Regions from separate parts of the Homo sapiens genome. Here regions 2, 3 and 4 are each linked to region 1. The links come from fine-mapping of genetic effects on gene expression. A gene starts in region 1. Each other region holds a variant in brackets. All regions are shown on one strand. Distances are between the middles of the regions. Region 1 holds the start of DNMBP (dynamin binding protein). Region 2 overlaps DNMBP (dynamin binding protein). Region 3 overlaps ENTPD7 (ectonucleoside triphosphate diphosphohydrolase 7). Region 4 overlaps DNMBP (dynamin binding protein).

Evidence for each region. PIP is the estimated chance that this variant, and not a neighbour inherited with it, causes the effect.
Region 2: its variant is fine-mapped to the expression of DNMBP in whole blood (TOPMed, PIP above 0.99).
Region 3: its variant is fine-mapped to the expression of DNMBP in whole blood (TOPMed, PIP above 0.99).
Region 4: its variant is fine-mapped to the expression of DNMBP in thyroid (GTEx, PIP above 0.99). The same link has a PIP of 0.9 or more in lung.

The regions. Positions count from the first base shown.
Region 1 is chr10:100,005,075-100,013,181 of GRCh38, reverse strand. DNMBP (dynamin binding protein) reads left to right here and starts at 3,235. Exons shown (of 17, transcript NM_015221.4): 1 at 3,235-3,344. RefSeq lists a silencer at 2,943-3,462 and enhancers at 6,119-6,178, 6,729-6,808.
Region 2 is chr10:99,958,332-99,966,438 of GRCh38, reverse strand. All of the region lies in intron 3 of DNMBP (dynamin binding protein), which reads left to right. It overlaps DNMBP-AS1 (DNMBP antisense RNA 1), which reads right to left. Exons shown (of 5, transcript NR_024130.3): 5 at 7,441-8,107. Among named protein-coding and RNA genes, the nearest start is that of DNMBP-AS1, 35 kb to the right of the region's middle. The variant G/A (reference allele first, on the strand shown) is at 4,349.
Region 3 is chr10:99,688,638-99,696,744 of GRCh38, reverse strand. ENTPD7 (ectonucleoside triphosphate diphosphohydrolase 7) reads right to left here. Exons shown (of 13, transcript NM_020354.5): 7 at 7,995-8,051; 8 at 5,227-5,360; 9 at 623-789. It also overlaps a transcript of COX15 not described here. Among named protein-coding and RNA genes, the nearest start is that of ENTPD7, 33 kb to the right of the region's middle. The variant G/A (reference allele first, on the strand shown) is at 3,791.
Region 4 is chr10:99,927,320-99,935,426 of GRCh38, reverse strand. All of the region lies in intron 4 of DNMBP (dynamin binding protein), which reads left to right. DNMBP-AS1 (DNMBP antisense RNA 1) reads right to left here. Exons shown (of 5, transcript NR_024130.3): 2 at 7,187-7,267. Among named protein-coding and RNA genes, the nearest start is that of DNMBP-AS1, 4.2 kb to the right of the region's middle. The variant G/C (reference allele first, on the strand shown) is at 4,547.

The sequences.
Region 1 (8,107 bases):
TATAAAACCACCTTTGCAAAATTTTAACTGAGGAACTTATGAAGTGAAAGAAAGCAGACCTAACTGACCCCATCTTGCTTCTAACCTTTAAGTTGTCCTCGTTCATTCCTGGGCATAGGCTGAACTAACTTTGGGAAAGAATTCAGTTCATGACTCTGAAACAAAATTGATAATAGCCCTTTGCCAAAAAGACCCCCTTCTTGCCTAGGGACCAGTCTGCCTTTGCAGGACTAACAAATTAGCTACAAGATTAGAAATTACAGTTTAAGGCCGGGAGTGGTGGCTCACACCTGTAATCCCAGAACTTTGGGAGACTGAGGTGGATGGATCACTTGAGGCCAGGAGTTTGAGACCAGCCTGGCCAACAATGTGAAACCTCATCTCTACTAAAAATACAAAAATTAGCTGGACGTGGTGGTGCATGCTTGTAATTTCAGCTACTAGGGAGGCTGAGGCACGAGAATCGCTTCAACTCGGGAGGTGGAGGTTGCAGTGAGCTGAGATTGCACCCCTGCACTCCAGCCTGGGCGGTAGACTAAGACTCCGTCTCAAAAAAAAAAAAAAAAAAAAAAATTACAGTTTAGGGGTCATGCAGCCTCTGACTCCAAGAGCCTGAACCTCCCAAATTGCTCCTGGAATAACATCACTATTTCAAAACCTAAGATCAGTATTTGAGATATTTTGCAGACCCTGCAGTTGATGGATCTGCTGACACCATCCAGACCGGTAATCTGGCTCAACCAGTTCTGCATTGCACCCAGGAGCAGAAAACAGCAAGAAAACCTCATTTTGACCCCCTATGTTTCCATCTCCAACCTGACCAATCAGCACTCCCCACTTCTCAAGACCCCACCAGCCAAATTATCTTTAAAAACTCCACAAGGTCAGGAGATGGAGACAATCCTGGCTAACACGGTGATAGTCCGTTTCTACTACAAAAATACAAAAAAAAAATTAGCCAGGCGTGGTGGCGGGCGCCTGCAGTACCAGCTACTCGGGAGGCTGAGGCAGGAGAATGGCGGGAACCCAGAAGGCGGAGCTTGCAATGAGCCGAGATCACGCCGCTGCACTCAAGCCTGGGAGACGGAGCGAGACTCCGTCTCAAAAAAACAAACAAACAAAAAACTCCGATCCCCAGGCTGGGCGCAGTGGTTCATGCCTGTAATCCCAGTACTTTGGGAGGCCGAGGAGGGTGGATCACCTGAGGTCAGGAGTTCAAGCCCAGCCTGACCAACGTGGCGAAAAAAATAAATAAAACGAAATGCTTGATTTTTCATCTGAATTTCATATGGCATACTTGACTCCAAACAACTTTAGAAAGCTACATCCACAGAAAACAAAATTGTAGGAAACTGAATAATAAGTTATTTTTATTTTGGCTAATAACATTATCCAAAAATAAAGACAATAGATTTGCAATGTTAATTACTTTCTTGAGGAAAGAAAAGTCACTTGTTTTAAAATATTTATTTATTTATTTATTTATTTATTTATTTGAGACGGAGTCTCGCTGTGTCACCACGCTGGAGTGCAGTGGCGCGATCTCAGCTCACTGCAACCTCTACCTCCCGGGTTCAAGCGATTCTCCTGCCTCAGCCTCCCGAGTAGCTGGGACTACAGGCACCCACCACCATGACCAGCTAATTTTTTATTTTTAGTAGAGACAGGGTTTCACCATGTTGACCAGGATGGTCTCGTTCTCTTGACCTCGTGATCCGCCGAAAAGTCACAGTTTTACAGGCAAATGAAGCATTGCTAAGAATTTTAAAGACTCTCCGAACGTTGATATTTTACTACAAAATGTTCTCTTTACAGTGTTAACATGCTTCAAAAAGCAAAGGAAAAAAAAACAGTATGGTGGCTTCTCAAAAAATTAAACACAGAATTACCACATGATCCAGCAATTCTTCTGGATATATACCCAAAAGAATTGAAAGTAGGGACTCAGATATTTGTACACCCATGTTCATTGCAGCATTATTCACCATAGCCTAAAGGTACAAACAACCCAAATGTCCACAGAAAGATGGGATAAACCAAAGATGTTATATACGTACAATTGAGTATTATTCAGCCTTCAAAAGGAAGGATATTCTAACGCATGCTACAACATGGGTGAGCCTTGAAGACATTATGCTAGGTGAAAGAAGCCACTCACAAAAGGACAATATTGTATGATCCCACTTATATGAGGTATCCAGAGTAATCATAGAGACAGAAAGTAGAATGATGGTTACCAGGGGCTGGAGAATGAGGAGTTAGTGTTTAATGGGTACAGTTTCAGTTTGGGAAGATGAAAAAGTTCTGGAGCTGGATGGTGGTGATGGTTGCAGAACAATGTCAATGTACTTAATGCCACTGAACTGTACACTTAAAAAGGATTAAAATGGTAAATTTCATGTGATATATATTTAACCACAAGTTTTTAAAAAGCAAAGGGAAGGAGAAACATATACAGCATGGGATGAGATTTGTGAAATATTTATTTTTGTTGTGCATGCACAGTCATAGACTCGCCGCCTTCTTCAGAATCCTCTAGGTAGATTCCAGAAACGTGAGGCGCAGCAATTCCAGCAACATAGCCAAGCTGTGTAACTTCGTGGTCTTTAAACAAACAACGGGAATACTGCGGGGATTCAGAAACTGAGTCGGAGGAGGAGTTCTGACAGCCCTGCCCAGTTCTTGCTTCTGTCATTTCTTGCTCTCAAATTCTCAAAGATGTCCTGAGAGACTTTCCTCAGAAAAAAATGGGACAGATAGAGGCGAACCCCAGCGAGTATTGTGTGGCATAATAAGGGAAACTGCCTCGGGGTAGCAAAGAGGACAGCATCACACGCAGACAGGAATCGACTTGGACTTCTCTGAATGGAATTTTGACTTTTTTCTAGGTTGGAGGGTGGTGTCGGGAGTGGGGGAACAGCAAGAGTGGAGGAACTTGTCCGCAGCCGGGGCTGCACGTAGGACTGCGTGAGGCCGAGGCCCGACGAGCCGTGTCGGCGCGCTGCGGCGGGGGCGGGCCCCCGTGCCTCAGTTTCCCCGGTGGCCGTTCTGGGAGCGACGCCCCTCTGACGTCGCGAGGCGAGCAGGGCCGGGCCGGCCGCCAGGGGGCGCGAGCGCGGGGCGGGCGCCGGAGAGGTGGGCGCGCGGGCAGCGGAGCTTGGCGCCCCCGGGGCCGCGCGGACCGCGCCGGCAGAGGCGGAAGCCTGAGCGGGAGGCGGGGCGGCGCGCTGACTCACACGGGATCGACCCGCCCGCCGCTTCCAGGGGCGGAGGTGACAGCGGGCTGGGGACTGGCGGCTGCAACTGCCTGCCGCGCCGAGGGACCGCCGGGCGGCGGAAAGCAGGTCAGAGGCCGGGCCAGGCCGGAGCCGGGCGGGGGCCGGGCGGGGAGCGGGGGTCGCGGTCCGGGGCCGCGGGCGGAGGGGACCCGCACCCCGAGAGACGCGCCGCGCCGCGCCGCGCGGCTAGGCCTGTATCGGCCCTTTCCCAGCGGCGGCGCTGTGCTGCGCTCTGTGGGCCAGGAGCCCGCGAGGGACAGTGGGGCGCAGCGGGCCCCCTCGCACTCCTGTAGTCCCCGGGAGTTGGAGGGGTGGTCAGAGCAATGCGAACGTGGGCTTTTCAAGCGGTGTCAAGCCCAGGGCTCTTTCTCTGCACCGCCCTGCCACTCCGGCAATGAGGCGGAATTTTGAGAGCTGGAAAAAGAATTCTGCGTTAGTCCACCCCGCTGATTTTACAGATGTTCGGAGCCTTACGGCATAGGAGGCCGTGATTCTGTGTCAGGGAGACAGGGACAGATGGCTTCCGAAGCAAGGGTTAGACCTGTTCAGCTGGAGATGCAGCTTTGGTCATGGTGGAGTTTTGCAGAAACCCGCGGACACCCGCGTTCCTGCTGCAGGCACAGATGTCCACCGGGCATCTGTGTCTCAAAGGGTGGTGATGCTGTCACTTTAGTAAAGGAATATTGAGGTTACCAAACAGGCCGGGGCCTGATGCAGATGAGGAGTATAGACTTAAATTTTAAGTGCAAAAACAACTTTAAATGCAGTCTCATTATTACTGCCTGTCTCATTTGTACTGTAATGAAGGGTGAATATTTTTGGCACTCACTTATTCTGGAATATGGGTAACTTGCCTTTAGGTCTGTTTTATAGTAATTCTTTTACACAAACATGAAGATCTTGTATTAAAACACTTTCATAACTAATGATGCTGTAGTATGTGGCAGGCGAGTGGTAACGCTAATATTTAGGGTTTGAGCATAGTCTAGCTCTGCTTGTTTACATAGCTGAGTTAAACGGATGAGCAGGACTGATTAATCTGTAGTAGTTTTTGCAAGACTGAAGTACCTGACAGCATTCGGGGATCATTTCTCAGTTGGTGTTCCGTTTATTACTTTCACAGCATGAATACCGACACGGTGATCAGCAAGTTAGTTTATCCTCTACCCATTTTTCTCTAAAATATTGAATTAAAGGATCTCTAAGGTCCTCTTCTGTCTCGAGTTCTCCGATTTTACATGTTAACTTGAAACACGTCACTCATTGTGATAATAAAAATGTTTTAAGAAGAAAAGATTTTTAGAATTCTGCATAATGGGGCATAGCGAATCTTCAAATTCATTATTCTCAGCTCTCTCAGTCACTTTATCAGGGTTGGGCTAAAATAAGTGAAAAGTGACTTTTCAAATTGCAGATACTTACGTGTTAAATTCACTTAAATTCAGAGGCTGCAATGGAGTGATTTCTGGAGGGTGGAGAGTAGCTCAAGTCTGGCTTGGGAACGGGGTTCGTGCAGTGCACTGATAACTTTTGCAATAAGCCAAGAACAGTCTGACTCAGAGAATGTGATAAATTGACTTTTATACAGTGTTCATATTGTGTATTTTTTGGCTGAGATAATAATAATCTTCATAAACGATCTGTTTAAATATGCACCAGTTATTTATTTGTCTTGCAGCCCCAAGGCAGGGCATTTCCCTCAACGTTCCATCAATCTCTTCCTCTTTTCTGGCTCCTGACTTCAGGTGATCCGCCTGCCTCAGCCTCCCAAAATGCTGGGATTACAGGCGTGAGCCACCGAGCCTGGCTTTTGGCTTATTTTCTAGGTTTAGTATTCTGTTGTTTCTAGAGTCAGCTAATGGATTACCTACAACATGGTATTATTACGAGATTATCTCCTGTGAAATTCTCGAATGTGCTTGATCATCTGCCAAAGCATCCTTAGAATTCATTCAGAATACTTCTGGAAAGTTTTGCAACACCAATTCAATTAATATGAAATAGTTTCTTATTATACACACTCTGGAAAACATCTGAATAAGCTAATTTTCAAGATTGGTTAACTTAGTCTTGTTGGTCAGGAGTTAATTATGAGTTATTAGTTTCTTGCCTGGAAAGGCAGAAAGTTCTTAAGTAGCAGCAGTAAAATGAGCTCTTTAATGAAAGAGCCGTTAAACCAAGATGTTAACTTTTAGTTGTGTTCTTTATCCTCCCTGCTATGAAAGGCAGCTGTGGGAGGTGAAATAGAGTAGCTAAAATGTATTATTTCATTTTTAGATTTCTAGATCTTTTCTTCTGACTGAAGGACGTGACCACCAAGAATTGAACCAGCACTTGAGGGCAGGCACATAGGGCATTGTGTGAGGAGTCTGAAGGCATGGCTTTTGGTCCTTACTTGTTTATTCACTGAACACATTCTCACTGAGCACCTGTGTGTGCTGAGAGGGTGGGCACCTGTGTGTGCCGGGAGGAGGAACACCTGTATGTGCTTGTGGGGGGCACCTGTGTGTGCCGGGGTCGTGGTAGCACTTGTGTATGCTGTGGGTGCTGGGAGGGGGAACCAGTTTGAACAAAACAGACTAAGCCCTCGTGGAACAGACACATTCTAATTGGGTGGAAACAGACAAATATGTGAATGAATAGGTCAAAGGATCATAATGCTGTGGAGAACTTTAGAGTCAGGAAAGGGTAAGAGTGTGTGTGTGTGTATGTATATGTGTGGTAGGGGATTTACTTTTTATATAGAGGGGTCAAATAAAGCCTCTACTGAGATAACTTTTTTTTTTTTGGAGACAGAGTCTTGCTCTGTCACCCAGGCTGGAGTGCAGTGGCGTGATCACAGCTCACTGTAGCCTCAACCTCCTGGGCTCAAGTGATCCTCCCATCTCAGCCTCCCGAGTAAGCTGGGACTGCAGGCTTATATCACCACGCTGGGCCAATGTTTGTATTTTTAGTAGACGCGGGGTTTCACTATGTCGCTCAGGCTGGTCTGGAACTCCTGGCCTCAAGCGATCCACCCACCTTGGCCTCCCAAAGTGCTGGGATTACAGGCATGGGCCACCACACCTGGCCTAACTCATGGTGGGAGACTGGAAGGAAATGAGGAAGTGAGCAGGAGGCAGTGGGATGAGCATGTTCCAAACCCTGGTGCAGGAGCATGCTTGGCATGTTAGGGGTGGCAAGGTCATGGTGGCCAGTCAGTGTGGATGTGGGTTGGGGGGAGGTGGCAGCAGATGAGAGGGGGTGGGAGTGGGGAGGACACATCAGTGTAGGTCATTGTAAGGATTTTGGCCTTTACACTGAGTGAGGGGGAAGCCGTTGGAGAGCTTTGAACAGTGAAGTTGATGATGACTTATGTTTTAAAAGGATAACTGGCTGCTGGGTTGAGAATAGACAGGAAGAGGACAAGGGCTGAGTCAGGGAGACCTTTTCAAGCTAGAGCTGTGTGACTCACACCATAATTCTTCCCTGAGTCTTCGTTTCCTCATCTGTAAAATAACTGGGCCCTCTCTAGCTCAAGAATTTTAAGTTTTCAAGTAGTGCAGGGTATTATTTCTACAGGGAGGCAAGAGGATTGCGTGGGAAGAGGTTCTGAAAGTAAATCGCTTCAGATGACCTGAAAACTTGACACCAACCTGCCTGTAGCTGAATCATCCCAAATCAAGAGGTAATCAGGTCTTTTTCAGTCAGATTGTCAGGTCATGAGAACAAAAACACTGTTTCGTAAATATTCTCTGCTCATCCCTTTTGTACTTTGCTGATCCCTGAATTTTCCCTTCCTGATTGAAAAAGGATGAAAAGCTGTTACTCATCAACAGAACTGGCAACCAGAGTAGCTTTTGTTGTTTGGAAAATTGGGAACTTTGGGGAAGGAAACAATTCTGTGTTTATCGTAGGTCATAAGAGTTTTTCTTTTATAACACGCAAGGAATCTAAAAGATTGGTTTTGTTGTAGAATTCCCTTGTCCCATTCATCTCATGTCTCACAGGTGTTCATTCTTAATGCATTGCATGTGCTTCCTTTTGTTTATGTAGGAGCTTGCAAAGTGGGAATGTTTGTTTTATGTGTATGTATCTTGATTTATAATGCTGTAATTCATTTTCCTTTATGTAGTTTGGTTTTTTTTTTTTTTTTTTTTGGAGACTTTTGAGACAAGAGTCTCACTCTGTTGCCCAGGCTGGAGTACAGTGGCGAGATCTCGGCTCACTGCAGCCTCCGCCTCCCGGGTTCAAGCCATTTCCTGCCTCAGCCTCTTGAGTAGCTGGAATTACAGTCATGCGCCACCACGCCCAGCTAATTTTTTTGTATTTTAGTAGAGACGGGGTTTCACCATGTTGGCCAGGCTGGTCTCGAACTCCTGACCTCAGGTGATCCGCCTGCCTTGGCCTCCCAAAGTACTGGGATTACAGGTATGAACCACCATGCCAGGTCTCTGAGTAGTGTTTTTAAGATCCATCCATATTGTTATGTGTCTAATTCTCTGCTTTGGAATGCTGCATTTATACCCCATGCTGTTTGCATCCATTGGTTTTGCTTTATCTGCTCTCTGTGTAGTGAGTGGTTACTCAAGTTGTTCCTACCCCCTAACACCATAAATATTGCTGCAGTGAACATCTTCCTACATGTCTCCTTACAAAGCTGTATAATATTTCTGTGGAATTGCTGGATTATAGGCTTGCAGAGACTGAATTTGATTAAATAGTGCCAGATGCCTCTCCACAGTGGCTGCCCCAGTCTCTGTGCCTCTGGAAGTATTAATATTTGAGGACTCCTGTATCCTCATGTCCCACCAGCACTCGCCTCTTTCCAGCTATCCATGGTTTTCAAT
Region 2 (8,107 bases), 47 kb after region 1:
CTGACTCAAGGTCAGGCCAGGACCTGGAATCTAGATTTTATCTTGACTACCTTTTAACCAGTTAAGCCTAATAAGCTTAAAGATGTAAGTGGAATCCAAAGGAAGAGGATGTGGGCAGGGGGATACACTGGGAAAGAGAGACTAGAATGAGATGTACTAATTATCCATGGTTTTATCTTGTTCTCCTCTCTGTGATAATCTACTGCCAGTAAACACACTGACCAGTCAGCTTTCCTTCTATGCCTTTCACGTTTTTTTTTTAGCTCTGTCTTTTAATTTGGAAACACAAGGCTTGGAGGATGGAGAAGTTAGTTATACCTATGCAATTTGCCTTTTTCTGGGAAACTTAGCTTGTGCACAAATGATTTTAATTTCTCTTTTTGTATACGTGACAAGTCACATCAACAGGTATTTACTGGTGGGAAACAAAATCACTAAAAAATGAAAGTATTGTTTTATGCCAGATATGCAAGTTTATCAGACTTGCATCTAGGTTTCCTGTTTTTTAAGTCTAGTGCTTGGGATGGCGCTTCAACTTCCTAGACTGAAAATCACTTTTTCCATTAGATCAGTGTGTCTGTAAATGAAATGTTGATGATGGAATAGGTCAGGAGGGGATTTGGAAACCTTAAGAGTATGTGGGGCCAGGCATGGTAGCTCAAGCCTGTAATCCCAGCACTTTGGGAGGCCTAGGCGGGTGGATCACCTGAGGTAAGGAGTTCGAGACCAGCCTGGCCAACATGGTGAAACCCCATCTTTACTAAAAATACAAAATTAGCTGGGCATGATGGTGCATACCTGTAATTGCAGCTACTTGGGAGGCTGAGGCAGGAGAATTGCTTGAACCCGGGAGGTGGAGGTTGCAGAGAGCCAAGATTGCGCCACTGCAGTCCAGCCTGGGCAACAAGAGCGAAACTCCATCTCAAAAAAAAAAAAAAAAAAGTATGTGAGATAATGTTTGAGATCTGTTGTGTTTTACCACGTGCCTTTTTAGTTCACTGTTACTTACTTACCTTTAAGAAGTATCATTAGGATTAATAAGAGAAAAAATATATGTGTAATTTATAGATGTCTATATGTATTTAGAGCAGGCAGTATAGCTTAGGGGATAAGAATTCTGACAGGCCTAAGTTTAAATCCAAGTCCACCACTTAATAGCTGTGACCTTGGACTAGTTACTTAAGTCTCTCAGCCTCAGTTTTCTTATCTACAAAATGAGGATAATAATATAATACCTACCTCAGGGTGATTGTGAGGATTAGATGAGGTTGTACATGGAAAGCATGTGGTAGTAGGTAAGCGCTCAGTAAATGCTAGCTATTCTTATTAGTCTTAACCTGGGCGCCTGGGCTTCATTGATGTGCTTTGGGTATCTTGTTTCTGGGATAAGTCTGTGAAGTTTTGTGTGTCTGTTCTCAGAGAGATTCTATGTGAAATCAGAACCACTGATCTTTGTTCCAGCAGATGTCACCCTTCTTCCTTTTCCTGAAGCTATGTAATTGTTTTGGACTATTCCTACTGTTTTGAGTTAAAATATATATATATATATATATTTTTTTTTTTTCCTTGGGCTGGAGTCTCACACTGTCGCCCAGGCGGGAGTGCAGTGGCGCAATTTCTGCTCACTGCCACTTCCGCCTCGTTGGTTCAAGTGATATTCATGCCTTAGCCTCCCGAATAGCTGGGATTACAGGTGTGTGCCACCACACCCAACTAATTTTTGTATTTTTAGTAGAGACAGGGTTTCACCATTTTGGCCAAGCTGGTCTCGAACTCCTGACTTCAAGCAATCCGCCTGCCTCGACCTGCCAAAGTGCTGGGATTACAGGCATGAGCCACCACGCCTGGCCTCGAGTTATATTTAAACTGAGAAACAAGTCTGTCTCTTAGAAGAAGAATCAAAACAGGTGGCCAGTGCCCCTGACTATCCTAAAAAAAAAACAAAAACAGGAGAAAAGAAAGGTGGGGGGTGGAGGGGAGTAAAGAACAAAGCCAAAATAAGAGATTAGTGCAAGGAGGCTGGGCGCAGTGGCTCACGCCTGTAATCCCAGCACTTTGGGAGGCTGAGGCGGGTGGATCACGAGGTCAGGAGTTTGAGATCAACCTGGCCAAGATGGTGAAACCCCATCACTACCAGCATGGTGGCAGGCACCTGTAATCCCAGCTCCTCGGGAGGCTGAGGCAGGAGAAATTGCTCGAACCCGGAAAGCAGAGGTTGCAGCGAGCCGAGATCGCACCACTGCACTGCAGCCTGGGCGACAGAGCAAGTCTCTGTCTCCAAAAAAAAAAAAAAAAAAAAAAAAGAGAGAGAATAGGACAAGGAAAAGACAGAGAGGAGAGAAACAAGTTAGTGCATATTATGACAAGTGATAAAATATCACTAATAATTGCCTCACGTAAGACAGAATCCTCATCCCTTGCCTATAACCTGCCCCCTCAAACAACAGGCCAATAAAAAATAAATTGACCAGTGGTATTCATCAGTCAAAGCACATGTGTTATAAATTTGTGATGCCATGAATGTGAACTCTCAGGAAAGAAGTTCTGACATGGCTCGTATGGAAACCTGAATAAAATACTCTACGTGGTCAGGCTGCATAAAGCACATAGTTCCCCTGGCATTTAGAGACAGCCCAAAAGGAGTCCGTGAGGAACCCAGGACTGCAGTCAGACTGCTCATATCCGATTCTAAGAAGACCTGCACTCCTTTTTACCATTTTATTCCTAATGCATTTCCTGTTCAAATAAAAAATCCAACCAGAGGAAACAAGCAGTGTGGCTGGGATTAATTGTGCATGAGTCAAAGGCTCAGGCTGACCCTAAGGGTCACCACACTTCCTATTTTTCTGTTCTCAAAATCTGGTCTTGCTCGTGCAGGAGTTCCTCATATTGGCATTTCAGAAGTCTGGGAATGACCACTAGTTATTCTGGAGATACCAATCTAATGGAAAAAGTGATCCGTTCCTAAGGAATCACCTAGGACCCCAGGGGAATAGCTTGTATGACTCTTTCTGATGAAAAACAGAGACTTACGGTTCAGTAACAGGGCTATAAAACAGGGGCATTGAGGCAGAATATGGTGACCCACACCTTTAATCTCAGCAGTTTAGGAGGCCTAGGTGGGAGGATCACTTGAGCCCAGGAGTTTGAGGCCAGCTTGGGCAACAAATGAGACCCCATCTCCACAATAACAAAAAAAAAAATTAGCTGGGCACAGTGGCACACACCTGTAGTCCCAGCTACTCAGGAGGCTGAGGCAGGAGGATTGCTTGAGCCTGGGAGGTCAAGGCTACAATGAGCAGTGATTGAGCCACTGCCCTCCAGCCTGGGTAACAGACTGAGACCCTGTCTCAAAAAATAATAATAATCAAATGAATTTTAAAATAAAAAGGGTATTGAACTAAATAATCTCTAAAGTACTTTCCAGGTTCTAAATTGTGTATGTTTTTCAAGATTCACCTTTACTGTGTAGAAATAACCAATAAAATAGCAGTCCATCAGGTAATAAAGCTTATCAAAACAGTTATCCTGTTGAAAATAGATAGGAAAACAAGCCTTATTATATGGGTTCAGGGGGATCTGACAAAACAAGGAAAATAGCATAATTCTACAGCTTTAAGAAAGCCAGTTGATTTCAAAGCCAGCAGAGTGGGAGTTATGGCACGCTTTTATTCTTCCCCTTCACCAAGAGGCCCATTGTGTCTGAACAGCAGTCAGTCACCAGTGCATTCCCTCTGTGTTCTCGATGGATGGCCTTAGGGCCAGAGGGGGAAAAATTACTTGTGGTTTTTTGTTTGTTTTTTTTTTTGAGACGGAGTCTCGCTCTATCGCCCAGGCTGGAGTGCAGTGGCACAATCTCGGCTCACTGCAAGCTCCGCCTCCCAGGTTCACACCGTTCTCCTGCCTCAGCCTCCCTGGTAGCTGGGACTACAGGCGCCCGCCACCACACCCGGCTAACGTTTTGTAATTTTAGTAGAGACAGGGTTTCACCGTGTTAGCCAGGATGGTCTCAATCTCCTGACCTCGTGATCCCCCTGCCTCGGCGTCCCAAAGTGCTGGGATTACAGGCGTGAGCCACTGCGCCCAGCCTTGTGATTTTTTAGGACCCCAACTTCTGACCAAGGGATAGGGAATCATAAGTTAAAGGAATGTAGAAATACAGGACCAAGACCCTATTTTTGGGGAACACTGAAACCAAATAATATCAAATTTGTGAAAATATTTTGGGCAACTCTCTCTAAGTGTAAAATCTTATGTTAGGTGCTGTATAGTATATAAAAATACAAGTGTCAGAATTCATGATATAGACAATAATTTCTTTTCTAGGCTATAGACAGCCAAGATGAAT[G/A]TGAGCTTCTAAGGTTTTTTAGAGAAGCAAGCCTAGGTTTCAGATGGAGAGACAGTGTAACTGGAGTAAGGCTTTGGGGTTAATAATGATGCGGCTTCATAACAATAAAAACCTCCTTGTGTGGAATAGGGTCTCATATCATAGGTGAGATAATATTGGATAGTTGGAGAAGGGGAAAGTTGTGACTGGATAATCATGAATGTAAGTTTGCTTTGGGGTGAAAGCATAAGTCTTTTGGTAGCTCAGTAAACCTCTACAGAGAGTGTCCAGAGCAAATTTATTTTTTATATATTTTGGGTAATAAGAATAGGATTACTGAGGAAGAAGCCATTAGCAGTAGGCTCCTTGTGCTTCATGGTAAAAGTTTGGCCCGGGGAGGGAGATGGTAAAACTGGTGCATTTGTAATCTTGATTTGTCATGAATCAATTGGTAGACTTGAAGAAATAATGCGTGGGGACAAGATTTCAAAGGGTGAGATGGTGGGAATTGGACCAGGGTCGTAGCATAGAGCAATTAGTAGAAGGAAGAGGCCGGGCACAGTGGCTCATACCTGAAATCCCAGCACTGTGGGAGACTCAGGCGGGTGGATCACTTGAGTCCAGGAGTTCGAGACCAGCCTGGGCAACATAGTGAGACCCTGTCAAAATAAAAATTAGGTATGGTGGCGCATGCCTGTAGTCTCAGCTACTTAGGAGGCTGAGGTGGGACAATCAGTTGAGCCCGGGTGGTCAAGGCTGCAGTAAGCCATGATTGCACCACTGCACTCAGCCTTGGTGATAGGGTGAGACCCTGTCTCCACAAAAAAAAAAAAAAAAAAAAAAAGAAAAAGGGAAGAAATATTTTGAAAGAAGGAATTAGAAGAAAAAAGGAAATGAGCAGCAGAAGTCAGTTTGGAAAGCAGAATGTAATGAATTTATTTGGGAGTTGGAGTTGAAGAATAATCATCATTAGCAAATGAACATCAAGTGCTTGCCATGCAAAAGGCATCATACCAGACTCTTGAGATACCAAAGAGAAGGTGGTACCTACCATTAAGGAACTGTAACCTACTTGGGAATATAAGACAGACTTAGTTTTTTTTTTTCTTATTTATTTATTTTATTTTATTTTTTAGAGACAGGGCCTCTCTTTGTCACCCAGGCTGGAGTGCAGTGGTCCGATCATAGTTCACTGTAGCCTTGAACTGTTGGGCTCAAGCAGTCTTCCACCTCAGCCTCACGAGTAGCTGAGACTACAGGCAATAGCCACCTTGCCTGAGTAGACTTAAATTTTTTGTTGTTGTTGAGATGGAGTTTTGCTCTCGTCACACAGGCTGGAGTGCAATGGTGCAGCCTCAGCTCACTGCAACCTCTGCCTCCCAGGTTCAAGCCATTTTTCTGCCTCAGCCTCTCGAGTAGCTGGGGTTATAGGCGTGCACCCCCCCACCTGGCTAATTTTGTATTTTTAGTAGACACAGGGTTTCACCATGTTGGCCAGGCTAGTCTTGAACTCCTGACCTGAGGTGATCCTGCGCACCTCGGCCTCCCGAAGTGCTGGGATTACAGGCGTGAGCCACCGCACCTGGCCTAATTTTTTTTTAAATCAAGAGCATGTAAAAATCAAGAGCATAAAAGATAACCCAGTTTTCCAATGTGCTTGACTATAAAATGACTCATAGGATTTTGCCAGGTGCTTTGCTACCCAGATCTTATTTTACCTAGGCCAGGTGCATTCCTTGAGCACCTCTGACTTGGGTACTGAGTGAGAAAGAAATTTTAACTATAAAAGTATAGGTAAGATTAACTTTAATCTTAACTGTAAGATTAAAATAGATAATCTACAAGTGAATAGCTTATAATCAGATAATCAAGAGTTTGTTATAAAACAGTTGATAAAATTAGAGTAATTTTTTCAAAATTAAATCATAAATCATATAGAACTGAATTTTAATTTCATTTTTCCAGAAACATATACTGTGCTCTTATCCTTTCTTTACCTCAACTTCTTCTACAATAAGACAGATGCTAACTGTTCAGCTTACGTTTTGTGAGGATAACCTGAAAATTGGTTATTTTCAAAAACAAAAGTGGTGATTATTGGTACCTTCTTTTAAGATCTCATTATAATATATTTTCAGGATAGGGACAGTTCAAGAAGGCCTCTGGAGAACATGATTGAACATTCATTGTCCATACCCTTCATCTCCAACAAAGAACCCTTTACTAAAGATTTGTTTTTTTTTTGTTTTTTTTTTTTGAGACACGGTCTCACTCTGTTGCCCGGGCCGGAGTGCAGTGGTGCCATCATAGCTCACTGCAGGCTCAAATTCCTGGGCTGAAGCGATCCTCCTGCCTCAGGTTCCCAAGTAGCTGGGACTATAGCGCTCACCACCACACCGGCTAATTTTTTTTTAAATTTTAAATAGAGACGCGGTCTCACTATGTTGCCCAGGCTGATCTTGAACTCTTCTGCTCCAGCAATCCTTCTACCTCAGCCTCCCAAAGTGCTGGAATTACAGGTGTGAGCCACTGCACCTGGCCTCCCTGTATACTCTTAAAAGTTATTGAGACCCCAAAGAGCTTTTTTGTTTTTTTGGGTGGTTTTTTTGTTTTGTTTTTGTTTTTGAGACAGTGTCTTTCTCTGTCGCCCAGGCTGGAGTGCAAGTAGCACAGCCATGGCTCACTGCAGCCTTGACTTCCCAGGTTCAAGTGACTCTCCCGCCTCAGCCTTCCAAGTATCTGTGACCACAGGTGGGCACCACCACACCTGGCTAATTATTGTATTTTTCCCAAAGAGCTTTTGTTTATGTGGGCTGTGTCTGTTGATATTTATCATATTAGCTATTACAACTGGGAATTTTTAAAACTTGTTTATCAGTCTATTAAAAACCCATTACATATTTACGTAAATAACATATTTTTATGAAAAATAAGTATAGCTTTCCAAACAAAAAAAAATTAATGAGGAATGACATTGCTTTACATGTTCGTAAATATTTTTAATGTTCAACTTACTAAAAGAAAACCAGATTCTATTTGCATCTGTATTCAATCTGTTGCAATGTGTTGTTTTCATGGAATTATGTGAAGAAAATCCAGCCTTACACAAATATGCAATGGGAGACAGGAAAAGGTATTTTAATAGTCTTTTCAAATAATTGCAAATATTCATCGTTGACACTGCACCAAAATTCAACGATTGGTAATTTCTTACGAGTTAATTGCAGTGTGGGATCTGAAACTACGTCGGTGAACTTTCATAATATTACACTAAAATTCATTAATCTATCTTGCTTTTGGAGTGTGAATCTTTTAGCCATGAATGATTTTATACCAGCATGCATTTGTCATTTAGGAAATATTGATTCAATTAGCTACTCAGTTATTCCAAATGTTGACCATTTCAACATACAATGTGAAAAAATCATATTTGTTACTATCTCATCAGAAGAATCTTTAAGTATGGGAAAGCTGCCAAGCCCATGGTAGTAGATACAAGTTTTCCAAAATTCTCATTTTCTCTTGGAAGTTGGAATTTTATCATTGGCAACAAATACTGTCATTTGTTCTCCTTGATGTTTCAGACTCACTTTCATTTTGGAGGAAACATCTGCCAGATATCTAAGTCTGAATAAACATAGTTGTCTGTTATTCATTCTTGCACATAAAATGGTGTTATGTGAAAATAAACAGACGGTTCAGGCATATAACTCAGTTACTCGTGCTTCTCCTCAGCAGTAAAAGTGCTTTATGTGTAATTCCTATATTGTCACACAGAAT
Region 3 (8,107 bases), 320 kb after region 1:
TAAATAATTTTACAGACTTAAAAAACAAAAAAGAAACAAGAAATCCCACCACTGTTTGTACATTAAGGTCTAACTACTTCATCTGGTACTCAAATGAAGAATCTGTGATCTGTCCAATGCTAAAGGAAAAACTGACTATTATGAATTTGATGAGAGACCATTTTAAAAGTTAATTTTAACTATGCTTGCTTTTTATCTTTTAGACATACTACAGAACTGAACTCTCACAAAAGATGCAACTGCACTGTAATTCAACAAACATGTCTTGAACACTTCCATGCAGAAGGAACTGCTAGCAGCTACACTATATATTGTACATTTTAAACTGGCAATTTAATTCATCTCCCTTTTCCCATGATGTTAGGTCTGAATATGGGAAACAGCAAGAGATCACAATAAGCTACTGTACTTTATGAGTCCTAATAACAAAGATCAGAATGCACCCTCACCCAGAGTGGGACTGCTAATAGAGGTCTTTAAGAGATGCTACCCCATTGGCAGGGGTAGTCAGAAAGAAGGAGGAAGCAGGGACTTATCTGTCTTAGGAGGATGTGAGTATTTCTCCCTAATATCTGCAGCCTGACATTATATTTCAGAAACTCAGATCCCATATCAAATGTACCTGTTTTTGTTAAGAGTTTCATTCAGAACAAGGTCTTCGTAGCGCTGCCGGGCAAAGTTGCCTCCGAAACCCAGAAAAGTTGTGACATAAACCCTGTACACGTGTTCAGTGTGTTGCACATCACAGCCCAGGTTGAACTCAGCCAGCAGGATCTTGGCAGCTTCTTCCTATAATACAATACCAAGAGAAAAAGGGAATTTTAGTTTTGGTTGCCTTCTAGAAAGCTATGACATTGCTAATACACGAGGCTTCATTTCTATGACTACTCTTTAAAACATCTTAAGCATTCTTTCATCCTCATAGCATTATTTTAAACAAAGACACAAAATGACAAGACTGCACTAAAAGGTACAAATTAGACACTAAATTAAGAACTAAATATGAAATTAGAAACCCAAAACACTATCTGTAGTTATATAGGAGGTAGAATTACTACAGATATCATTTTCTCACATGTATTTTTCTGTATTTTCCAATTCCCTCAATGGGAATGTGTTATTTTAATAGGAAAACATCCTTTAATAAAAATAAATTTAAGGAACTCTGTGGATCATCATAAGATCTATTCTGTGGCCTTTTCTTTTTCTTTTCTTTTTTTTTTTGAGACAGAGTCTCACTGTGTCACCAGGCTGGAGTGCAGTGGCATGCTCTCGGCTCACTGCAACCTCCGCCTCCCGGGTTCAAGCAATTCTGCTGCCTCAGCCTCCTGAGTAGTTGGGACTACAGGCACGTGCCACCATGCCCAGCTAATTTTTGTATTTTTAGTGGAGACGGGTTTCACCATGTTGGCCAGGATGTTCTCGATCTCTTGACCTCATGATCAGCCCTTCTCAGCCTCCCAAAGTGCTGGGATTACAGGTGTGAGCCACTGTGCCCGGTTCTGTGGCCTTTTCTAACATTATCCAAGAAGCCCTAAGGTTCCTTATGACAGGTTTGGGGATTGGGAAAGTTCAATTTTATTGTACCGCCAATGAAAAGGTGCTATATTTTTTTCTTGAACCTCAAGGGCAGAGGCTGAATTAATCATATTCCTCAGCTCATTCCACATTATCATGGCAAAGCCTCTCTTTTGCTTTATTTATTTATTCTCTTTTATCTTCATACTTAATCTCATTCCATTCTCTGCCATGGGCAACCATTCTAATGTGTTATGTATAATTTTTGTATATATGTATTATTATAAAATGAGGATTCTTGTTTTGAATGTATTTCTTTTTAATTTGTGAAAAATACCATTGTGCCCTGCAATTTCACTCCAAGGTACATACCAAGAGATCCAAAAACTGGGGTGGGCATGGTGGCTCATGCCTATAATCCCAGCACTTTGGGAGGCCAAGGAGGGTGGATCACTTGAGGCCAGGAGTTCGAGACCAGCCTGGCCAACATGGTGAAACTCCGTCTCTACTAAAAATACAAAAATTAGCCAGGCATGGTGGTGGGTGCCTGTAATCCCAGCTACTCAGGAGGCTGAGGCAGGAGAATCGCTTGAACCTGGGAGGCAGAGGTTGCAGTGAGCCGAGATCGTGCCATGGCACTCCAGCCTGAGTGACAAGAGTGAAACCCCATCTCAAAAAAAAAAAAAAACAAAAAAACTTATGTACATAGAAAAATGTGTATATGAATGTTCACAGCAGCACTGTGCATAATAGCCAAAAAGGGAAAACCACTGAAATGTTCATCAGCTGATAAATGGATAAACAAAATACAGCATGGTTGGTCATACAATGGAATGCTGTTTAGCCATTAAAAAGGAATGAAATACCCATACCACGAGATGGCTGAACCTTGAAAACATTTTGCTAAATAAAAGAAGCCAGACATAAAACACCACATATTGTATGATTTCATTTATACAAAATGTCCGGAATAGGCAAATCCACTGGAGAGAGAAAGTAGATGAATAGTTGTCAGGGGTAGGGAGAGGAGAGAATGAGGAGTGACTGCTAATGGGAAATGAGTGGGGAGTGAATATGGGGTTTCTTTTTGGGGCGATGAAATGTTCTGGAATTCAATAGTGGTGGCTGCACAACTTTGTGAATGTACATAACTTTGTGAGTTGTACAAAAAAATATATTAGGCATTCAGGATTATTTAAAATGTTTTAAATGCCATTGTCTCACAGTTTCTTTCATTTTTACCAAGCACTAAGATTCATCTTGAAGAGCCATTATATTGCTATGTGTAGTTACTATTTTTTTTTTTTTTGAGATGGGGTCTCACTCTGTCACCCAGGCTGGAATGCAGTGGTGCGATCTTGGCTCACTGCAACTTCTGCCTCCCAGGTTCAAGCGATTCTCCTGCCTCAGCCTCCTGAGTAGCAGGGTTAGAGGTGCCTGCCCACCCTGCCCAGCTAATTTTTGTATTTTTAGTAGAGACGGGGTTTCACCATGTTGGCCAGACTGGTCCTAAACTCCTGACCTCAGGTGATCCACCCGCCTTGGCTTCCCAAAGTGCTGGGATTACAGGCGTCAGCCACCGTGCCCGGCCTGCTATATGTAAATCTAATTTGTTGCTTGCAAGTATGCATTCCGTACCAGTGTTGCTTTCCATAACCATGTTCCTTTCTAAATCTGCACACACACAAAAGTCATTTCTTTAAGACTTGAAGCCCCAGTCCCGCTTGTCACCTATTTCTTAGTATCAGATCCATGCCTTCGTTTTACCTGTTAAATACATACTAACGAATATAGACTAAAAAGTATCACAACCTAGTTAGTCCCCCACATTTCCAACCCCAGCATGAAATTCTCTGCTGACTGCTAAACTCACATTTCCAACAGTCCTGTGGATATTCTGACATATATGTTCCTTGGGTATCTTAAACTCAATATATCCAAAATTGAAGTCATTAGTTTTACAACTTCTGAACTAGAAGACCAGATAGACGCTCTCATCCAGATCTCTCAGGACAATACTGTTTGCTTAATATCACCCCTGCCCTTACCCCTGTTGCTCTTCTCTCAGTTACTGGGTTCCTCAGTCTTCTGGTTATCTAGGATAGATCCTCAGCACTGCTGGCCATCCTCCCACCCTACTCACACTACCACAATCAATCGCTCAATTACATTGGGTTTTCACTCCAAACTATCCCCTGAAATCTGTCCCCTCCCTTTCATTTCCACTTACTTTGTCTAACTCAGCCCTTTATTACTTCTCACTCAAGGTTCC[G/A]TGACCTATATTCTTTCTCCTACTGACACAAAAATTTTTTCACTACAAAAAGATCAGATCACAGTCACACAACTGACATCATCACAAAATTCAGAGCTGAGAAGGACCTTCACAGTTTAATTATTTTATAAATGAAACTGAGGCCCATGTGACTGCCTTACTCAAAAACTTTTGGTGGTTTTCCACTATCTATGGAAATAAAAGCCAGTCCCCTTATGATAGCACTCAATACTGCTCATGATTTAGCTCCATCTTATCTTCCCAGTCTTAACTACTAGCACACCTGAAAATCCTATACTGCAAAAGGCTATTCGTCATTCCCTGGACATTCTGGCCTCTGTGCTGCTTTTTCTGTGCCTTTGTATATAGTGTTCCCTCCATGCAGGTGGCCTTCCCTCAGCCTCCACTCTGCAAAAAAAAAAAAGCCTACTCTCATCCAAGGCCCAGGTAAATACTTTACCTTCCATGAAGCAAGAATGGCTCCCATTCAACTTTGCAAGCTAAGTTGGCTGCCAGTCCCCATATTGCCACAGCTCTCTGTTTAAACCAGATGTTCTCAATGATGGGCAATTTCCACCCTGCCCCACACATCTGGTAATGTCTGGAGACACTTTTGATTGTCACAACTGGAAGGGGGAGGGTTGTTACTGACATCTGGTATAGGCAAGAGATATCATATGATGCATGGGATAACCCCTGATGACAAAGAATTATCTGACCCAAAATGTCAAGAGTGCCAACGATGAGAAGCCCTGGTTTAGATCAAGTTAAGCACTGCTACAGTCTCCCTGATATCACAAGCTGTCTCCACTGACAGATAAATTATAAGTTTTTAGGGACAGTGTAACTCACATGTCTATTCCTTGTACATAATATTGTCTATTCCTTGCACATAATGGGTGTACATAATAGGTGTACATAATGGCTGTACAAAAAGTGTCTGTGTAGGATGAAACTTCTCCCTCAAAATACATTCTTTACATTCTAGTGGGGTAAGGATTATTAGAAGGCCCAGAATGGAATCATCAGTAAGGGGAAAGGGAATAACATTTATTGAACAATAGATATGTATCAAATACTGTGCTCCAGAATGTAAATGCATTATCATGTTTATCCTCAGCAATGGCAGGAGATACCTAGTATAGTTATAATTGTTAAAATGTATTGAACACTTATGCTGGACAGTTTGCTAAATGCTTTACAAACATGGTATTATTTCATCCTCATAACTTTATGAGGTAGATACTATTATTATTCCTTTTTCACACAGGAGGAAGCTGAGGCTCAGAGAGGTAACCTACTCAAGATAACGCAAGCTAGCAAGTATCTGAACAAATATTTAGAGCCAGGTAGGTTGGTCTAAGTCCAAAGACAGTGTCCTTCCTTCTCAAATACTAGCATTCCTAGCAACTAAATTTCCCTAAAAGGTAAAGTACCTGCTTTGCAGGAAGGACAGAGGTTGAGGTAGGAACTTCATAAGCAATTTGGAGAGAGGCTCCTCCCATATCCAGTATCCCTACTGTCCTTCTCCGTCCTGCTGCCAATTCCTGGGTAGCCTCAGCATCTGATTCTGAAATAAATAAGAGAACAAAAAGGCCCTAGTAATTAAAAAATAAAATTAAGTCAAACCCCCAAAACAGCAATCCCTTGAAAATTTGAAAGCAGGCAGGTGCCATGGCTCACACCTGTAATCCCAAAACACTGGGAGGCCAAGGTGGGAGGATTATGTGAGCCGAGGAGTTCAAGACCAGCCTAGGCAACATAGTGAGACACTCTCATAAAAAAAAAAAATTTTTTTTAATTAGCTGGGCATGGTGGTGCACACCTGTAGTCCCAGCTACTCAGGAGGCTGAGGCCAGAGGATCATTTGTGCCCAAGAGTTTGAGGCTGCAGTGAGCTATTATCGCACCACTAAACTCTAGCCTCAGTGACAGAGAACCTGTCTCAAAATAAAAAAAAGAAAGCAAACAAGTATACTAACTGAATCAACTATATATTACACAAAGAATAATTCTTGTGAATTACTTAAACATGACATTTTGACTACGTATCCCTAGTAGGATATAGCCTAAGGACAAAAGAAACAAATATCTTAAGCTACATCGCAGTAGTCTTGTTAACAATATTGTTGGTTTTATTATTTAAAAATTATGAAGGGAGACTGAGGCAGGCAGATCACAAGGTCAGGAGTTCGAGACCAGCCTGACCAACATGGTGAAACCCTGTCTCTACTAAAACACAAAAATTAGCCGGGCATGGTGCTGCACACCTGTAATCCCAACTACTCAGGGGGCTGAGGCAGGAGAATCGCTTGAACCCGACAGGCGGAGGTTGTAGTGAGCCGAGATTGCACCACTGCACTCCAGCCTGGGTGACAGAGCAAGACTGTCTCAAAAAAAAAAAAAAAATTATGAAACATATTGTGGAATAAAACAAATAAATGTTTATGTCAATATCTTTAGGAACAAAGATTCAGCATAACAGAACAAAAAGGATATAGGTATAAAAATCAAATAAATTAATAGCACCCTATAATCTTACATATGAGTCAGAAATATGACTATGAACTCATTTATTTTTCTCTTTCTAAAAAATACATATTTCCTAGCTGTGTTCACTGAAAGGCCTAGAAGCAATGATATCCCAGGAGTAATGACCACCTGTGGTATCTGGACCAATAATCTCTAAATACCATCTTTTACTAAAAGAAACCAGGGCTCTTTTAAAAACAGGCCAATGCCAGGTCTAGGGTAGAAAGTATACAAGATGACCCTGGAATACATTGCTGTACCAGATAGCAAGGGGAATATAAAAGAGTATTGGGGTCATATTAAAAGGATACAGCAGCCAACCTAAAGATGCTCCTTAAAATACTAATAATGTGATGGGCTCTAATGCATCTAATATATTAAAATCCATGAGTTCATAATAATAATTAAAACTTTTTTTTCACTGGTTACCTTTGGAAGTTGCTAGACACCAACTCATTATTCAGAAATGTGATAAATAAAAAGAATCAAGGATTTATTCTGTCTTTCCCATAAGAACTATATGTCAGGGTAACCAAAGAGTTGATCAAGAAAAGTTCATTACATAAAAATTCTAGCTGTTAAATGCAGAAGGAATGACAGAATTAGAAATATCACCATTTTGCAATCTCTAATGAAAAACATGTCCAAGCAATGATCACAATTGGCTATTACCACAATTCCATGAAAGGCAGATAAGGAATTTTAATACTAAGTTAGATCAGGCTGATAATACTTGAACTCTCAATACCTGATCAGTCTGAGCATGACAAAAAGTGAGTCAACCAGACATTACAAAACTCCTGATGTGAGTAGTGGAAAACACACAGCGCCTTCTATGATTTAGTCTTGCAGATGGAATTGAATCTGAGTCTAATCAAACATCTATATCTGACCTCCAGTTTAAAGGACATATGAGGGGATAAGAAACATGTTAAAGAAAACATGTTAACCCCACAAAGATGCAGTCAATCAAATCTAGCATGTGGCAAATTCTTTCTACCAGGTGATCCAATTTTTTCTTGCTTTTAAAGGCAGGGGAGTGAGGTGGTAAGGTTAACAATTATAGATTAAAAGAGACTAAAGAGACATATTAATCAAATGCAATGCATGACCCTTGTTCAGATTCTGATTTGAACAAGCCCACTACGAATAAACATTCTTGAGAAAATCAGGAAAATCTATACCTGGATAGGGTATTAGATACGTATTGTATGATATTAGAAATTGTTAATTCTATTAAATTTAAAAATGGCATTATGGATATATTTTTTGTTCATTTTGAAACCCCTTATCTGTTGTAGATACATACTGACATACATGAAAATAAAAATTACATGTCTGGGGTTTGCTTTTTAAAACATTCAATGAGAAAAAAAAACCTTTAATACATGGGGGGATATGGGGGAGAAATGGCAAAACATTAGTAAATATTGAGCCTGGGTAATGGGTCCATGGAGGTTCATTTTATTATTCTACTTTTGTGAATGTTTGAAACTTTCCATATTAAAAAGTTAAAAAGAAATCAAAGAAAGCAAATTAGGACTGGAAAATGAAGCATCTTATGTTTGAAAAAAGAAAAACAACTCAAAATTTGCATTTACATGCTACTGATAGGTTATAACTTAAATCTTCAGCCCTTAGGTAAACTGTCATAAAAAGACAATATTACTCACCATCCTCGTGGTCGAATCTTCCCAAAACAAAGTTGATTCCAATCCATGCATAAACCCCTAAGTAAGAAACAGAAAAGCCCTCACTTAATTCTCTACTGCTATGCCATGTATAC
Region 4 (8,107 bases), 78 kb after region 1:
TGACAAAGAGAGGCCCTGTCTCTAAAAAGTAAAATAAAGTAAATAAGAAAAAAAAAACTAAGTCTGTCTTATATTCCCAAGTAGGTTACAGTTCCTTAATGGTAGGTACCACCTTCTCTTTGGTATCTCAAGAGTCTGGTATGATGCCTTTTGCATGGCAAGCACTTGATGTTCATTTGCTAATGATGATGATTCTTCAACTCCAACTCCCAAATAAATTCATTACATTCTGCTTTCCAAACTGACTTCTGCTGCTCATTTCCTTTTTTCTTCTAATTCCTTCTTTCAAAATATTTCTTCCCTTTTTCTTTTCTTTTTTTTTTTTTTTTTTTTTTTTTTGTGGAGACAGGGTCTCACCCTATCACCAAGGCTGAGTGCAGTGGTGCAATCATGGCTTACTGCAGCCTTGACCACCCGGGCTCAACTGATTGTCCCACCTCAGCCTCCTAAGTAGCTGAGACTACAGGCATGCGCCACCATACCTAATTTTTATTTTGACAGGGTCTCACTATGTTGCCCAGGCTGGTCTCGAACTCCTGGACTCAAGTGATCCACCCGCCTGAGTCTCCCACAGTGCTGGGATTTCAGGTATGAGCCACTGTGCCCGGCCTCTTCCTTCTACTAATTGCTCTATGCTACGACCCTGGTCCAATTCCCACCATCTCACCCTTTGAAATCTTGTCCCCACGCATTATTTCCTCACGTCTACCAAATGATTCCTGACAAATCAAGATTACAAATGTACCAGTTTTACCATCTCCCTCCCCGGGCCAAACTTTTACCATGAAGCACAAGGAGCCTACTGCTAATGGCTTCTTCCTCAGTAATCCTATTCTTATTACCCAAAATATATAAAAAATAAATTTGCTCTGGACACTCTCTGTAGAGGTTTACTGAGCTACCAAAAGACTTATGCTTTCACCCCAAAGCAAACTTACATTCATGATTATCCAGTCACAACTTTCCCCTTCTCCAACTATCCAATATTATCTCACCTATGATATGAGACCCTATTCCACACAAGGAGGTTTTTATTGTTATGAAGCCGCATCATTATTAACCCCAAAGCCTTACTCCAGTTACACTGTCTCTCCATCTGAAACCTAGGCTTGCTTCTCTAAAAAACCTTAGAAGCTCACATTCATCTTGGCTGTCTATAGCCTAGAAAAGAAATTATTGTCTACATCATGAATTCTGACACTGGTATTTTTATATACTATACAGCACCTAAGATTTTAGACTTAGAGAGAGGTGCCCAACATTTTCACAAATTTGATATTATTTGGTTTCAGTGTTCCCCAAAAATAGGGTCTTGGTCCTGTATTTCTGCATTCCTTTAACTTATGATTCCCTATCCCTTGGTCAGAAGTTGGGGTCCTAAAAAATCACAAGGCTGGGCGCAGTGGCTCACGCCTGTAATCCCAACACTTTGGGACGCCGAGGCAGGGGGATCATGAGGTCAGGAGATTGAGACCATCCTGGCTAACACGGTGAAACCCTGTCTCTACTAAAATTACAAAACTTTAGCCGGGCATGGTGGCGGGCGCCTGTAGTCCCAGCTGCTGCGGAGGCTGAGGCAGGAGAATGGTGTGAACCTGGGAGGCGGAGCTTGCAGTGAGCCAAGATCGCGCCACTGCACTCCAGCCTGAGTGATAGAGCGAGACTCCGTCTCAAAAAAAAACAAAAAAACAAAAACAACAACAAGTGATTTTTCCCCCTCTGGCCCTAAGGCCATCCATCGAGAACACAGAGGGAATGCACTGGTGACTGACTGCTGTTCAGACACAATGGGCCTCTTGGTGAAGGGGAAGAATAAAAGCGTGCCATAACTCCCACTCTGCTGGCTTTGAAATCAACTGGCTTTCTTAAAGCTGTAGAATTATGCTATTTTCCTTTTTTGCCAGATCCCCCTGAACCCATATAATAAAGCTTGTTTTCCTGTCTATTTTCAACAGGGTAACTGTTTTGATAAGCTTTATTACCTGATGGATTGCTATTTTATTGGTTATTTCTACACAGTAAAGGTGAATCTTCAAAAACATACACAACTTAGAACCTGGAAAGTACTTTAGAGATTATTTAGTTCAATACCCCTTTTATTTTAAAATTCATTTGATTATTATTATTTTTTGAGACAGGGTCTCAGTCTGTTACCCAGGCTGGAGGGCAGTGGCTCAATCACTGCTCATTGTAGCCTTGACCTCCCAGGCTCAAGCAATCCTCCTGCCTCAGCCTCCTGAGTAGCTGGGACTACAGGTGTGTGCCACTGTGCCCAGCTAATTTTTTTTTTGTTATTGTGGAGATGGGGTCTCATTTGTTGCCCAAGCTGGCCTCAAACTCCTGGGCTCAAGTGATCCTCCCACCTAGGCCTCCTAAACTGCTGAGATTAAAGGTGTGGGTCACCATATTCTGCCTCAATGCCCCTGTTTTATAGCCCTGTTACTGAACCGTAAGTCTCTGTTTTTCATCAGAAAGAGTCATACAAGCTATTCCCCTGGGATCCTAGGTGATTCCTTAGGAACGGATCACTTTTTCCATTAGATTGGTATCTCCAGAATAACTAGTGGTCATTCCCAGACTTCTGAAATGCCAATATGAGGAACTCCTGCACGAGCAAGACCAGATTTTGAGAACAGAAAAATAGGAAGTGTGGTGACCCTTAGGGTCAGCCTGAGCCTTTGACTCATGCACAATTAATCCCAGCCACACTGCTTGTTTCCTCTGGTTGGATTTTTTATTTGAACAGGAAATGCATTAGGAATAAAATGGTAAAAAGGAGTGCAGGTCTTCTTAGAATCGGATATGAGCAGTCTGACTGCAGTCCTGGGTTCCTCACGGACTCCTTTTGGGCTGTCTCTAAATGCCAGGGGAACTATGTGCTTTATGCAGCCTGACCACGTAGAGTATTTTATTCAGGTTTCCATACGAGCCATGTCAGAACTTCTTTCCTGAGAGCTCACATTCATGGCATCACAAATTTACAACACATGTGCTTTGACTGATGAATACCACTGGTCAATTTGTTTTTTATTGGCCTTTTGTTTGAGGGGGCAGGTGATCTAGAAACATGCTGGGGGAATCCGAGGAGTCATTGTGGCCAACTGCCTCATTTTATTGATGGGTAGATTGAGTTCCAGAGAGAATTAGTAGTTACCCAAGAGTAAACATGTAATTATTAACAAAGCATATAAGGCAGTTTTCCTCAGGGTTCTGGATATTATTTCACAAATAAGGATTAAAGTTCAAGGAATCATTCCTAGATATCTAAGAAATGACCAGACAGCTAAAAGAGTAATCTTATTAAGGCCTGTCTCTTAGCATGTGTTTCCCCTGCTCAAAAACCTCATGACTCTTTGCTTTCCATTGAATAAAATAAATGTCATTGACATCCTCTGGGGTCCACCCCAACCTATCTCTTCAGCCTCCTCTCTTATTTTCCACGTATTATATCCTTCAGATGATTCCCCATTTCTTAGTGCTCCATATGTGAAGTCTGCAGAGATCCTGCTTCTCCTAGAAGTCACTGTTCACATCCAACCGCTTCCCTGAAGCCTCCACTTGCCATGCCAGGGACTTTGCTTTGGTGCTGTTGCTGTTTGTCTTTGCTCCATAGCACTTATCACATTAGATCTTTCTTTAAGCGTGTTGCTTCTGCATTGTAAGAGGCAGGGACTAATTTGTTTGTCTTTTTCTGTTCCACAATGCCTCCTCTATGATAGGTAACCATCTAATATTTGTTGATTTAAATAGCCATTTACCTGCCTTTTTGATTTCTGGCCTCATTTTCGACTTCTTAAATATGTTGTATGAATTAACTAGAAAAGAGGTTTAAGAAATGAATGTTTTTGATGCTTCCCTGGCATGACAAGTATCTGGGAAAATGTGAAAGCATACCTAACTCCATTCTGGGAAGAATGTTTACGCTATAAAATCACCTACTCACCAGATCAAAGTAAAAGGAAGTACTTTTTCTTCCTTCAGTCGTATGACTAACTGTCTGCAGGTGGGAGCTTCAGCAGCTTGCGATTGGAGTGTACACTAACTGGTGACTTCAATTCCAGAAAAGCAAAGCAGTCAGAAGAGTCCTGACTCTAAGTTAAGGGATGAAGTCCTGAAAGGTTTCAGATGTTCAAGGATTAGAAAGGTGGACTTGGAGGATGGGGAATGGAGGTGCAGCTTGAGAAGGAAAGCACTTGTTTATACCCCTGGTGGCTTACTAAAGGATTAAAGAGGCGGGGGAGACTGATATATGACCTGACCTGGACTTCTAAAGGGGTGCTGTTTCTCTTTCACACGACTTTTCCTGCAAAACCTTTGGAGTAGCAGAATGCCTCTATCTTCAGCAAGTAAAGCAGCCAAGCCAGTTTGACCAGCTTGAGGGAAACACCAAACAAAGCTGGCAACTCCAATCACATGCATACTAGTTACTCATTATCTTCTGGCCTCTGGAGAAAGATAGAGTAGCTCGCTGATTGGATCCTGAGGTTGAAATAACTCCACATCTCACTGCGCTCCGACTAGAGCAACGAGAAGAGTGTCTGGAATG[G/C]TTGGGAGACATTTTAAGCAGGACAAATCCAGCCTTAGGCTAGACTGCACCTGTCCACAGCCCAGCCCAGGCCCATGGAAAAGAATAGTAAAACCTTTGTCTTTAAGCACATAGAATATGTGTGAAACCCAGAAGGCTAGAAAAGAAAGGGAAGTGGAGGAGAAAAGGCACTGGGACTCCAGCTGGGAGTATGAAGACTACGGGAGTGTACGGAAAAGGAACCTTACAGTGCTGGATGGACTCTACAGAGAAAATGACTTGGATCCCAGGTACTGGGCCAAGGGACAGCATCAGCCCTACAGAAAAAGGGATTGTGGATACTGGGATTTTGAACAGAGTGAACCAAGCTATATGGACTGTGGGGAAGCACATGAAAGTGGAAAGGGCTGTGTGTACCACGGAGGTCATGATGGTTATAGGAGTCCAGAAAATGTAGATTATGAGAGTCTCAGCCCTGGGACGAAGGATAATTCACCTACGAGAAGCCCAGATGTGACCTCGAAAGCTGGTGGATACGGGGAGGCAAATGGCTACTCAGACTGTAAGAATCTGAATTATAATCCTGAGGACTCTAAAAAAGCTGAACAGTTGACTGACTGTAGGGGTTTGGATGATTCTTCAGCGAATTTAGGTCAACCTCAGTTGTGGTATATAGACCATGAGAATGTTAACCATAATCTTGAGGATTGTTGGGCAACTAATTTTTATTGTAGAGAACACAGCAATTTATATCATGTTCCTGGGAGTTATCCTGATGGTCAGCCTGTGAGCTTTTCAGATTCGAATGGTGTCAATGAAGATAAGGAATTTATCAAATACCATGAAGGGGACAGGAATGTTCATCAAAATGACAACATGTATCCCAAAGCAAAGACTCATATTATGGATCAGGGTGATTTTGATACAGAAAATAAAGGCTATGATGCTTTATTTGCAAACTGTGCATATAAATCTCGTAATTCCAGAGGGACAGATTCTCTCCATCAAATGGAGAATTTGGAGTATAATGGCACTGACATACCAAGAACAAAGGCACATGGGGGCAGCAGGATCCTTCTGGATGGTCTGCAGACTCAGTGTACCAGGGGAGAACAAGGAGGACATCATTTGGGGATTCCTCAGAGCTCGTCATTAGAGAAGAACATCTGGCATTTAGAGGAAGAGAAAAAATTAAATGGCCCAGAGACTTGGAGAAGGAATAGTTGCCTCCGCCGCACAGCACCCAGCACCCTGAGGCGCTCAGAGTTCGTGCAAAACAGCAAGAAAACCCAAGGTATGAACTCAGCCAGCCTTCTTAAGATAAAGCATAAAGATAGATTTAAAGGGTAGTTATACCAGGTACTAGGAGCACTTGTGTTCTTAAGGAGCCCGGGCCCTGAACTTCTTATCAAGTGCACCTTGAGTGAGAACAACCTTAGAGATTTAATTACTTTGGAAGGCATTGTACAGAGCAAGAGTATATATACAGTGCTAAAAATATGCAACATTCGGATAGCGCTCTCATGGGAACTTTTATTTACGCTTCCTGGTTTTTTCAGATGTCTCTAATCTCAAGTATCTTTCCTTTCTTACTTTCATGTTTTTGTTCATCTTGTCGAGGCAGCAAGTTTATTATCAGGGCATCAAGCTAAAATTCATTTTCCTGGCATGTTTTTTTTTTTTTCTCTCAGTCTCTACACTTCTTTGGACATTAATGGAAAAGAAGACTTGACTTTATTTTTATTTATTTATTTTTTTGAAACAAGATCTCATTCTGTCCCCCTGGCTGGAGAACAGTGGCACGGTCATGGCTCACTGCAGCCTCAAACTCCTGGGCTCAAGAGATCCTCCCACTTTAGCCTCCTGAGTAGCTGGGACTATGGGTACATGCCACCATGCCCGGCTACTTTTTTATTTTTTTGTAGGGGCAGGGTTTCACCATGTTGCCCAGGCTGATCTTGAACTCCTGGGCTTGAGCGAACCACCCACCTCTGCTTCCCAAAGTACTGGGATTACAAGTGTAAGCCACCATTGCCAGGCCTTCATTTTAATTTTTTTTTTTTACCGCTCCTTTCAGAGCAGGGCTACCCCATAGGCAGTGTGCCCAGAGTAGCCCTGATTTGTTTTATAGATTGTTCACTCCTTGACATTCAGGAATCTTAAGTGAATGATGAGTACTGACACTCTTGTGGATTCCAGAAGATTATTTCTAGCTTTCAAATCACTTCATCTCACTGAGCCTTAACTACGTTGTCTGTGAAATGAGAATATTAGGAGTCTTTTATCATGTAGAGGTTCTTTCTTTCTTGCCATTATATCTTTTCTTCAGTTCTCATAAGTGAGCTTTATTTCTACTGTGTTATTTTTATAATTACTGAACTCTCTGTTAAACCTTTCGTGTGTGTGTATGCTGTATGTTGTCTTCATGCCAAACGGCCTTTCTGGTTCTGGCCAATTTTGGGGTCCAGGCTGTGACCAGAGGATAAAGGTTAGTCAGAGAATGTGAATGATCTGAAAAATCCATCTCATGCCCTCCCCTTAAGTAGAAAGTTTCTCGTCTAGGTCTCCTTCAGAATGGGCTGGCTGGTTAGATTTGTACTAGGGGCCACCACAGACTGAAAAGATAAGCCTGCTATGGTCCTGGGATGGCCGGTGGTTTACCTGGTGGTCTTCCAACATGGGCTTGACTTAACTTGAATTTCTGGGGCACCATTTTGGACCTAACAGGCTCTTAACCTGCACCTATAAAGACAAAAATGAAACCAAACCCAGCTTTAGTTGGGAGGCTGAGGTTTTTAGCAGCTAGTCATTTTTTCCTAGGTGCATTTTCTCTCTGAAATGATAGGGACTGGATAACTTCTAAATTCCTTCCAGCTAAAAAAGAAAAAAGTCTGATTCTGTGATTCTTTATATTGGTTTTTGTATTGTTCCTCTTCCCTTCCCCCCGCATCTGTTCCTTTGGTGAACTTTGTTTCCTATGTTTAGTTCCTTATTGTATTAAGCCTCCCAACTGTAATCAAAGTGTGTTTATTCTGTTTGACTTAACAGGAGTGAAACCCTTCTCTCTGCAGTGTTGTAATGTGCCCTCTGATCTCCCTGAAACCAGCTCGGTTCCACCCAATATCATTTCCATTTCTACAACTCTCTTTATCTTTGAGGACTTAACTTTTGAAAGTATATTCATATTTAGTTCACCCCTTTTTGTACCCCTAATATCCTTCTTGACCTATAACAAATTCTGTCTTTACTAGAAATCTTTCAGCATTCTAACGTTCTTTGTTAGCTCTCTCACGCCATTGCCCTTCCTGAATATTACAAGGGAACACTGTGTAATTACACAAAGGAACAAGCATCAGAGTTGGTCTGCCCTGAGTTCAAATCTCAGCTCCACCATTTACTAAATGGCCTTAACTTGACAAAAATTACTTAACCTCTTGGAGCTTCGGATTCTCAATTTGTAAAGTGAAGATAATACCTCTCTCATAATGAGATAGAAAAATAAAACAGTCACATATCCGGAACATAGTAGGTGCTCATAAATGGCCATTTCTTTGTGTTTTATCTGCCCACCTCCCTTCCCCT